2 separate regions of the Homo sapiens genome follow, and region 2 is linked to region 1. A link means that fine-mapping ties the variant in region 1 to the expression of a gene that starts in the linked region. Tissue or cell type: testis. Region 1 holds a variant in brackets; the other region holds the start of a gene. All regions are shown on one strand. Distances are between the middles of the regions.

What was found. PIP is the estimated chance that this variant, and not a neighbour inherited with it, causes the effect.
Region 2: ADGRG3 starts here. The variant in region 1 is fine-mapped to the expression of ADGRG3 in testis (GTEx, PIP above 0.99).

What each region holds. Positions count from the first base shown.
Region 1 is chr16:57,689,238-57,694,484 of GRCh38, forward strand. ADGRG3 (adhesion G protein-coupled receptor G3) reads left to right here. Exons shown (of 12, transcript NM_170776.5): 12 at 1-141. Among named protein-coding and RNA genes, the nearest start is that of DRC7, 2.9 kb to the right of the region's middle. RefSeq lists enhancers at 605-714, 855-904, 955-1,004. The variant G/A (reference allele first, on the strand shown) is at 2,082.
Region 2 is chr16:57,665,487-57,670,486 of GRCh38, forward strand. ADGRG3 (adhesion G protein-coupled receptor G3) reads left to right here and starts at 2,820. Exons shown (of 12, transcript NM_170776.5): 1 at 2,820-2,919. The coding sequence starts at 2,862. ADGRG1 (adhesion G protein-coupled receptor G1) reads left to right here. Exons shown (of 14, transcript NM_201525.4): 14 at 1-81.

The DNA.
Region 1 (5,247 bases):
CCTGAGCAGAGGCTGGGCATTGCCACTAGGACCTGAGCTCCTAGAGAACAAGGACCTGGGTGGCCTCGCTTACTGTTCCAGCCCAGGCCAAGCACAGGGTCTGGCTCGTGGCAAACCTTGAATAAATATTTGTTGGCTGAATGAGTGGATGTATGAGTTTGGCACCAGCCTGGCAGATCCCTGAGCCAAGGGGGGTGTCTCAGGCCAGACCTAGGTTGGGCAGGGTACTTCCAGCAGCTGGGGCTCCATGTCACAATCGCATGCAGGTTTCTCAGTAGGAAACAAAAAGAGGCAGAGATAGCAGAGATGGGGTAGAGATACAGAGATGGAGAGAAGGAGAGAGAGACTTAACAGACAGGCTGACACAAAGAGGGAGAACGGTGGCGGAGAGACAGATGCAGAGAGATGGCAGCCCCACGCCGGCTCCAGCGACCCCCCTCCTCGGGGGGAGCAGTGAGTGTTGACATCATTCCCCTCCCTGGAGCCTCACCGCACAAGTCCATCCCTCACTCTACTCACAACTTACCAACCATTCTCCCTACCCGGCCCCCGACCCTCTCCAGGGAGCTCTGTGGACTGTCAAGCCCTGTCTGCAGGTGAGAAGTTACTGTCACTGTTAGGCCTCCCCCAACAGCCCTGGAAGCTGCGGGCTGCAGCCCACCTCCCCGTCCGGATGCTGGGTGCTGACGTTGACTGCAAATGGATGCGCTTCGCTTCCCCTCCCAGCCCACAAGCAGTTGAAAGACAGGAAGGTGGGCCCTCACTTTATGCAAGGCGCTGTGTTCCTGGAAGGGAAATTCTGGGGCGTGGACATTGCATCATTTGAGCCACAGGAGCAGTTCTGGTGGACAAACTTGGTGTGTTTTGGGGCTTATCTTCACAGACATCTGTTTCTCACACTGAAGGTCTCAACTTCCTTATCTCAAAGCCTCAGGGATGGTAACCTGAGAAACAGCTGTTCCACCATCTGATAGGTCTGGGCTTAAATCCTGGCTCGGCTACTTAGGAGCTGTGTGATCCTGGGCATTTTACTTCACCTCTCTGAGCCTCAGTTTCCCCATCCATAAAATGGGGATTATAAAGTCCTCACCTCATCCTGACAGCATTAAATGAAGTGACAGAAATAAAGTGCCCAGCACTGACTCCGCAGGAGTTAGTCAGCTCCCCCACCCTGCCTTGATTTAAAGAAAGACCAGCCAAGGGTAATGGCATGAGGAAATGGAGGTCCAGACAGGCCCAGCCACCTGCCCAACTAAGGTCACTCCATGGGCTGGGTTGAAGCTAGGGCCAGGCCTCCCCGGGTTGCCCTCATCCCAGAGTGGTCCCTGAGTTTAAGGATTATCACCTGGTCCTTGACTGGGCTTGGTGGCTCACACCTGTAGTCATAGCACTTTGGGAGGCCAAGGCAAGAGGATTGCTTGAGCCCAGGGGTTCGAGACCAGCCTGGGCAACATGGTGAAACCCCGTCTCTACTAAAATACAAAAAAAATTAGCTGGACATGGTGGCGTGCGCCTGCAGTCCCAGCTACTCAGGAGGCTGAGTCAGGAGAATTGCTTGAACCTGGGAGGTGGAGGTTGCAGTGAGCTGAGATTGTGCCACTGTACTCCAGCCTGGGCAACAGAGCAAGACTCTGTCTCTTAAAAAAAAAAAATATATCTAGGCATGGTAGCTACTTGGAAGAAGAAGCAGGAAGACCACTCGAGCCCAGCAGTTCAAGACTGCAGTGAGCTATGATGACGTAACTGCACTCCAGCCTGGATGACAAATCAAGACCATGTTTTTAAAAAAAAAAAGGAGGAGAAGAAGGAAGAGAAGGAAGGAGGAGAAGGAAGAGGAGGGAGAAGGAGGAGGAGGAGGAAGAAGGAGGGAGAAGGAGGAGGAGGAAGAAGGAGGGAGAAGGAGGAGGAGGAGGAAGAAGGAGGGAGAAGGAGGGAGAAGGAGGAGGAGGAAGCAGAAAAAAGAAGAAGAATAAGAATTATCATCTGGTCCCAGCCCCCAGTCTCAAGGAAAATCCTGGGTTGCAGAGTTTCCCAAACTGCTTAGTGGGATGCTTAGTGCTTGTTGTGGGACCAACAAGACC[G/A]CAAGTCCTGGATGGCTGGGCCTCCTGGCTCAGAAGGAGAGGGCAGATAAGAAGGTGTGGCTAGCATTGGGGGTGCACTGCTTTTCTGGCTTGCTCTCCATCCTGGGGCTAGGCAGGGGCTGAGGGGCTGGAGTTCCTCATCACCTGCGGTTCCTGCAAAAGCAGCTCCAAGTGCCATGTTGAGCACCCATAAGGCCAAGGGGGCTATGGTGAAAATACACCCCAAAGCCCAGAGCAGATGGATGGAGTTCCTCCGTCATTGCACAGCAGCAATAGCAACCTAGGAGGTGGGCCATCATCACAGGTGGGAGCACAGACCCTGATCTCCGTTCACCAGTTTCAAATTCTGTCTTTGCAACTTGTCTTGGGCAAATTCTTCAACTACTGAGCCTGTAAAGCAGAAACAGCAGTAGCTGCCCCACAGGGTTAATGAAGGAAATGAATAAATGAGACAGTGCCTGCAAGGACTGCCCACTGCCTGGCCTGCCTGGCCCAGAATGAATGTGACAAAGCCAGAGCTTTGCCTTGGCCATCATCTCATCAGGTCCTGGGTACAGAGAGGGTCCCTTCTGCCATGGCTCCTGCCTGGTTCTCTCTTCTGCCCAAATCTCTTCATTCCTTGTATTTTTTCATTACAACATAACAAATACACAGGAAAAAAGAAGACTTATTTGCTCCATGCTGTCAGATAGGCAACACTAAAAGATATAAATCCTTCATCAGTTAATGAATTCAATGAAATTACAGTAAAGATTTTGGGGCGGGCACGGTGGCTCACATCTCTAATTTCAGCACTTTGGGAGGCTGAAGCAGGAGGATTGCTTGAGCCCAGGAGTTCCAGAACAGCCTGTGCAACATAGCAAGACCCTGTCTCTACAATAAAATAAAATAAGGGAAAAAAATAAATATTCTAATTTATTTTTTTTTGCTTCTCCAGAAACTTTTAAAATTGATATGGAGGCATATAGACCTCAAATAGCTAAGTCAATCTTAATGAAAGAGGGCATACAGGAGGTGGAGGTTGCAGTGAGTCGAGATCATGCCTGTGCACTCTAGCCTGGGCGACAGAGCTAGACCCTGTCTCAGAAAGAAAAAACAGAAAGAGGGGCATAGAAGGAAGACTTGACCTCTAGACATAAAGATATTACAAGGCCAGTTTGGTAAATGCAACGTGGTGTCTGTGCAGGGATAGGAAAGAAGATCAGTGGAACAGCACAGAGTGCTCAGAGGCAGACCCATGGACACCTGGGGGATTTAATACGTGACAAAGGTGGCATCATTATTTTCAGAGGAGGAAATACCTAAAACTAACACATTAGTTCATGAAGACACATTTAAAATCATTAGTCATCAGAGAGCTGCAGACTGAAATGACAATGAGACCTCATTGTATCCTTATTAAACTGATGAACTAGAAAGCTAGATGGTACCAATGGGCAGGGACGATATGGGAGCCAGGGAGAGTCTAGACTGCTTCAGCTGCCTGGAGAAAAACACAGTGCTTCTGCTGAGCCAGCAATCTTGCTACTGGTTGTTTATCTTGAAGAAACATTCTTCCAGATCTAGACCCCTCTAGACCTGTGTAGCATTGTCTGTGATGGAAGGGAGCTGGTAGCAAATCTGAGTGGTCTGTCCAGCCCACCCAATGTCTGCTGGGGAGTTCCCTCAAGACTGCCCCAAACCGTCAAGAGGTAGGGCCAGTTGGAATTCCAAAGAAATAAACACTAAGCGCCGGGGTGATCCGTATCCATCCAAAGCATTTATTAGGGAAACGTACATAGGGAAGGCTGTAGTGTTCTCATGACAGACAGCAAGAAGGGAGATGAGTCTGTTCATAACGAGGAGGTGGGTTTATGGAGTTTATATGAGTGTTTAAGGGATTCGGTTCAGGGCTGGGGCACGTTTAGCATTTGTTTGATCTTTCCATGTTTCCAGCAACAACCTAAACAACTATCAGTGCCTGGGGACATTGAAAGCTCCCTCTAGAACACCTGGACACCGAGTGCCCGTCACTGGAAGGACGAAGAGGTAATAAGTGTGGATCCACACAATAACGTGGAGAGATCTTAAAAACACAGCCCTTCATGAAAATATAAGAACCAGAAGGATATATTTGTTCAGTCTCATATTAAACATATATTAAAAACACCAGCATGCCAAACAATACTCATTTTGGAAAAAAAAAATACACATCAGAATGGTTACTTTATAGAGGTGGGAAATGAAAGTGGGTATGAAGAGAAAAAGGAATGAATAAATATGTAAAAGGAATGAAGTGTTGCATAGGGTTGAAAAAGGACAATGAAGCCTATGCTGCATCCCACTAGCATAACGCATCACCTGTTTTCCTTTCTCCTCCCTCCTCCCTTCCTGCCTTCATCCCAGCCAGTTCCCCACAGAGGTAATTACGAGTTGCTTAGCACCAAGTCTGAAATACTACACACACTGTCTCGTGAGCTCTCCACAGTGCAATTGATCCTTTAGCACCAAGTCTGAAATACTACACACACTGTCTCGTGAGCTCTCCACAGTGCAATTGATCCTTTACAGCTTATTTTTATGGCTGCATGATATTCCAGCTGGGAGGGGGAACATCATTCTCTATTCATGAGAATTGAGGCAATTCCTAAGTTTCTAGCAGTAACACTAACTGTGCAAACTTGTCAGCACAGTGACAGTCTGGATTCCCTCCTGGCAGCCCTATCCCCTGACCAAAAAAGGCCCATGCACCCCTCCCTCCAAAAATAAAACAGTGAAGATTATATTTTAGGACTGTATTGGTAAAAACACAGATATAATTCAGGGCAGATTCACACTTATATAGTCATTATTATTCTCATTTTTTTCTTCTGAATTTAAAAGAAATTAAACATTTTCATGAGCCACTAGCCTAATGGATAGGTTTTCCCCGTACTTCGAGGTAATGTTCTACATCACAGCTCCGGCCTGGACTAGAACCCAGGACTCAGTCAAGGCAGCCTGGTTCTGTCCACCGCAGCTGGCAGCTACTCCAGGCCCCACACTGGTTTCTGTCTGTCTCGATCAAGGCCACATTCGGCATGCCGTGGGGCAGGGGCTGTGCTGTGCTGGTAAATGTTTAACAACTGGCTGGCTCAGAGGAAAAGCCCTGGTCTTGGCGTTTGCTAATTTTTGTGGTGTAAATAAC
Region 2 (5,000 bases), 24 kb before region 1:
TCCTGGGATTTATGCAACCAGTTTACTGATCACTCTGCAGCAGGTGGGCTGCAAGAATTAAATCACTGGACTTCTCTCCCATCCCTGCCTTTAACCTTGTTCCACCAAATCAATCTCTCCTCCCGCTCCTAAGGCCCAGGTGAGGCAGATCACGCAGGTTCCCATCTTCCCTGTGATGAGGGCAGTCACAACGGATCATTGCTACTGTGTTCAGGTAAGAGGTCCCAGTGCAGCCAAAGTCCTCCCCAAGGCCCACAGTCCACTCTCTCCCTTCTGCAGGCTCCTCCCTCCTCCCCTGGCCACTCTAGGGGGATGCCCAGCAGGGGAAGAGGCTCAGAGTCTTGGATTGGACAAGGTGGGTGTGAGGCAGCTGGGTCTAGACTGGCAGTGCCCTCTGAGGGGCGTGAATGTGGGATCTTGGGACCTGCAGGGACCAAGAACCCCTGTGCCCTGCTGCTCTCCCAGCCCTCCCTCCACCCCCTCCACTCCCTCCACTGACCTCTGTCCCCACCTTTCTGCAGGTGGGGGGCTCCTCTTATGCCCCCAGCTCCAAAGGACAGAGGCCAAACCTTCCCAAGCCTCCCCTACCCCAGTGTCCGGATTGGGCAGCCCCGGGGGATCAAAGCCAGCTTCCCTCCTTACAGGCTTCTAGGTCTCCGTGAGGGGGGTCTCTCAGAGCCCCATGGCTGGGCTAGGTCCTGGGATGGGGGTTGAGGCAACTCCCCCCATCTTCCAGAATGGGGGGGAAATGACCCAGCCCCGTTCCTCCGCAATTCTCCTGCTTCTCAAACATTTTGTTTCTGCATCTGAGGCTGGCTCAGGTAGTGGGGAGGGGTCTTGGGTTGGGTCTCACCTTCTCAGGTAGGCCCTGCACAGGGCACCAACAGTTCCATGCTGATCCTTTTACCCCGATGGTTATTATCATGCACTTTCCCAGGCTGTGGGGCTTTGGACAGTGGGATCGCCCTTTCTGCCAGCATGTGGCCAGGCGTGCATCTGGAAACATCCCTTTAGCTTGGGAAATGGATTGGAGCAGCTGAGGGCTGAATGCTGGCTGGGTCTCGCTGGAGGACTTGAGGCCCTGCCCACTGGAGCCATTGGGAGAAGCTGGGGCAGGAGGCGGCAGGAAGGGACACTACTGTTTTGTTGGCCCTGGGGTTGGGGGGGGTCTCAGGGTTCTGTGAGTGGCTCCAGGCTAGTCCCTGGTCCCCAGGGGGCGTTTCAGGGAAGGGGCCTTAGGAAAAGGTGGCCCTCCTTCCAGCCCTGCCTGACCTTCCCCTGCACCTGCCCTCTGCCCACTTCCCAGGTGGGCTGGCTGCTCGGAATCTCAGTCTGCTCACCCCCAGGCGCTTCTTCACACACTGGTACCTGCGAGCCTCTCTGAGGGCCCAGGTGCCAGGATGGGGCTTCAGCGATGGGCCCAGCACATCCAAGTCCACTGCCCCACCTCACCCTCACCTGCAGCTGGGAGGGAGGTCTGCAGATCTTCCAGGAGAAGGCTGGCCAGGTGTGGAGCAGTGGCAGGCCCAGCCATTCATCTGCCTTCGCAGCCCTCCCTGCAGAGGAAGTTTCTGGGGCTCAGGAAGCCCTGGGCTCTGACCTGCTGCTCCATGCTGAATTCCCACCTGCTCCCACACCATGAGTGACCCTGACATCCCCTCCCTACCCCTTCCCAGACCCAGAGGGCTCAGCAGGAGACACTGAGTGGGAGGAGGAGGAAATGGAGGCCAGCAGGGGCTGAGCGGCTCCCCAGTTCAATCCCAAGGCTGAGTAGGGCTAGTGCCAGCCCCGTGGGCCAGAGGGGGATGCCAGCAACCACACACCTTGGTGGGATGCCCTTCACCTTCCAATTGCCAAGTGGCCATGGCCTCATGCACAGTGCATCCGTGGGGCCTCCAGAGTTGGCCCGAGTGGCTGGCGCCCTAATTCCTTTAGGCTGAAGCCCAGGAGTGTTTGCCACCCCCACCTCCCACCTGATCAGTGACCATTTGGGGTGTAAAGACAACAATTTCACAGCTCTGATGATCAGAAATGATGTAATGGCCACAGGCGGCTCCGCCTGCGTCATCCATGATTTCATCACACACCTCGGGAGGCTCAGGGTGACAGACAGTGCATGCAAGGTCACCCGGCCAGGAAGTGGCCAGGATGGATGTTAGCTCAGGCCTGACCAGCCCCCGGGGCCGCACTGCTGTCTTCCCGCTACCCTGCCTCTGGGTCCGTCCTGTTATCCAGGCTGGTGGGGGAAGCTCAGGCTGCAGGGCCAGCTCCTGCTCTCCTCCCACACCCTCCAGCCTGGTTCAAGCCATAGGCACCATCTGGGTCTTCGTCCTCATGCCCAGAGCCAGGCTCTGTGCCCAGCTTGTTGCAGGTCTCATCAAACCCTGACACAGCCTTAGGAGGCAGCCCCATTGCCATCTTCACTTTACAGAGGAGGAAACTGAGGCTCAGAGAGGCTCCCAGCTTGTGAGAGGAGGGGTCTGAGTAGGTGCGCCTGACTCCAAAGCCTGTGCTCACCACAGTTCCCAGGGATCCGCTCTGAGCCAGGCCCCTGTGGCCACCCAGCCCCTAGCCCCGTAGATCCCACCCCAGTGGGGCCCCGGGGGCACATACCTGGGTGGGCTCAGCAGCTCCCTCTGCAGGTGGACCCAGGGTGCGGTGAGACTGGGAGCACTGCCCAGTTCCCCACACTCACCTTTCACAACCCAACCAATGGCGCCATCGAGCAGGAAGGGTGAGAAAGAGGACACAGGAAGCCAGAGTGGTGGGGCTGCAGGGTGGGGGCAGGCCAGCTCAGCAGAGCCTGGGGCCAGAGGGCCAGACAGCCACAGAGCTCCTGGCGTGGGCAAGGCTGGCCAAGGATGGCGACGCCCAGGGGCCTGGGGGCCCTGCTCCTGCTCCTCCTGCTCCCGACCTCAGGTGAGTGGCTGGCACCTCATCCCCTCCTGCCACGCTGGGCCGACCCTGCCCTGCCGAGGGAGGGATCCAGGGACAGACGCAGGGACTGGAGAAGGTGAGGAGTTGGGGTGTCTGGGATGTGTCCTCCGATACCCCCCGTGGCCGCCTCAGCACCTTCTCTAGCCCTGTCCCTTTGGGTCAGTCCTGTCCTTCCACTAAACCTTGCTCAGGACTGGTCTCAGGTTCCCTTTGTTGCTCCACAGTGCCCTGGAGATAGGGGAGGTCGGAGGGTGCTCCCTGACTCCCCAACCTGGGCTGTGTCTCCCTGACAGGCCTGGCTCTGAGACAGGGGTTGGCCCCGGGCAGGCAATTCTCCAGCTGGCTTGTGAGATCCTGGGGACGGGATTCAGACACTCTGGAAGCTGAGGCCAGGAAGGTCTGTCACCTCGTTCTTCTGGACCTCTCCTCCCGCACATGTCACCCCACACCGGCTCCCTCTCCCAGTCTCAGCCACAACCTCTTGGTCCTCAGTGGCCTGAGCCAGGATCCACACTCCTCCCCGTCACTCTCCCGTCTCACACACAAACACATGGTGCGTCTCCAGAGGCCATGGAAGTGCCCGGGCCTTGCCTTTGCTGGCCTCTCTCCCAGGAAAGCTGTCCCCCTACCCCTTGCCCACTTAGCCAGCTCCATTTACCCTTCTTGGCCTCTGTGGCGTCTTAGCAACCCTCTCGGACAGAGGGAGGTGCTCCCCCGTTAGTGCTCCCTCCTCAGTGCTCCTGTCTCAGGGCCTTGCAGGCCACTCTCTTTTTGCTCCTGACTCGGTGAGGGGCCTGCATGTCCATCTCCCTGTGTGTCCAGCGTGTGGTCGCGTGACTTTGGCCACATAGATCAACTTATTTGGTCTTCAAATAACCCTCTTCTTTTCAAACATTGGAAGATTCAGTGGAGTGAATCAGTCCCTGGCTCAAAAAAGGGTGGGAGATGACAGCACTGTCCTCCTAGTGGCCCCGGGAGGCCCTGGTACAGAGCAGGCCACCAGGCAGCCCTTGATAGATGAATGAACGGAGCCACCGATGGCAGCTGTGACCAGGGCTCATGGGCGTCCTCAGGTCCCAGCTGTCATCGCTGGTTGGGCCTTCAAGCCTCCTCCAGGTGATGCTGTTTCCCCCATGGTGATGTGGGTGCTCTGGTTGGGGCAGAGCAGCAGCCATTTGATTGAGCAAGGAGCTCTGAGAGGTCTACACACAGGAAGGTCTGCACACTTCCTGTGTGGACAGTGATGTGTTAGTCTCCATTCTCCATTTGCGCATTCATTCATTCATTCATTCATTCAGGAAGCATCGATGGTGCCCTCTGCTCCTGCTGGTACCACTTGGCCCCTGCCCTCAAAAGGCTCACAGTCTGCAGGAGTGACACAGTGTGGTGGGGGCTCGCATGTGAGACCCAGCTGTTAGGGCTGAGCAAGGGGTGGATGCAATGGAGGGCCTGGCATGAAGGGACACGTGACAAAGGTGCGGGCAGGGCACGGGGAGCAAGGAGGGTGGTCACTGGGCAGGCTGGCACCTGGGGCAGCCTTCAGCACCGTGAGGTCTAAAGGGGCCAGGAGGGAGTGGCCCCCTGGGCTTCTACAGCCAGACTGTGGCTACAGGAGGGAAATGGCGGTGGTTTGCTCACGGTGAGCCAGCAGGGGCTGAAGGAGCCATGCGGGGTGGGGGCAAATGCCCACTCTGCCCTCCTCCTGCCCTCTGACCTCCAGTCCACTTTCCACTTGCTGACCCCCAAATGAGGCAGTCCATGGAGGCCAGGCTCTGGAGCATAGAGGGTCTGGAGAGGAGGGGAGTGCTATCCCACCCACAGGCCTAGCACAGGGTCTCCTTGTCTACATGAAATGCTTGCAGTGTCTTCAAAGAATAAACACAGAAAAGATATTTAATGATCCTGTCTGTGTAGGGTGCTTGCCAAGAGCTTCACTTACATGCCTGCGCTGAAATTCATGGCAATCCGGGAGGGAGGCCTGCACCTGGACCCATTCATGACAGCAGGGCCGGGATGGCAGAGAATGGCACCCGTCCTCAAGCTGACAATGTTATCTCCCCTCC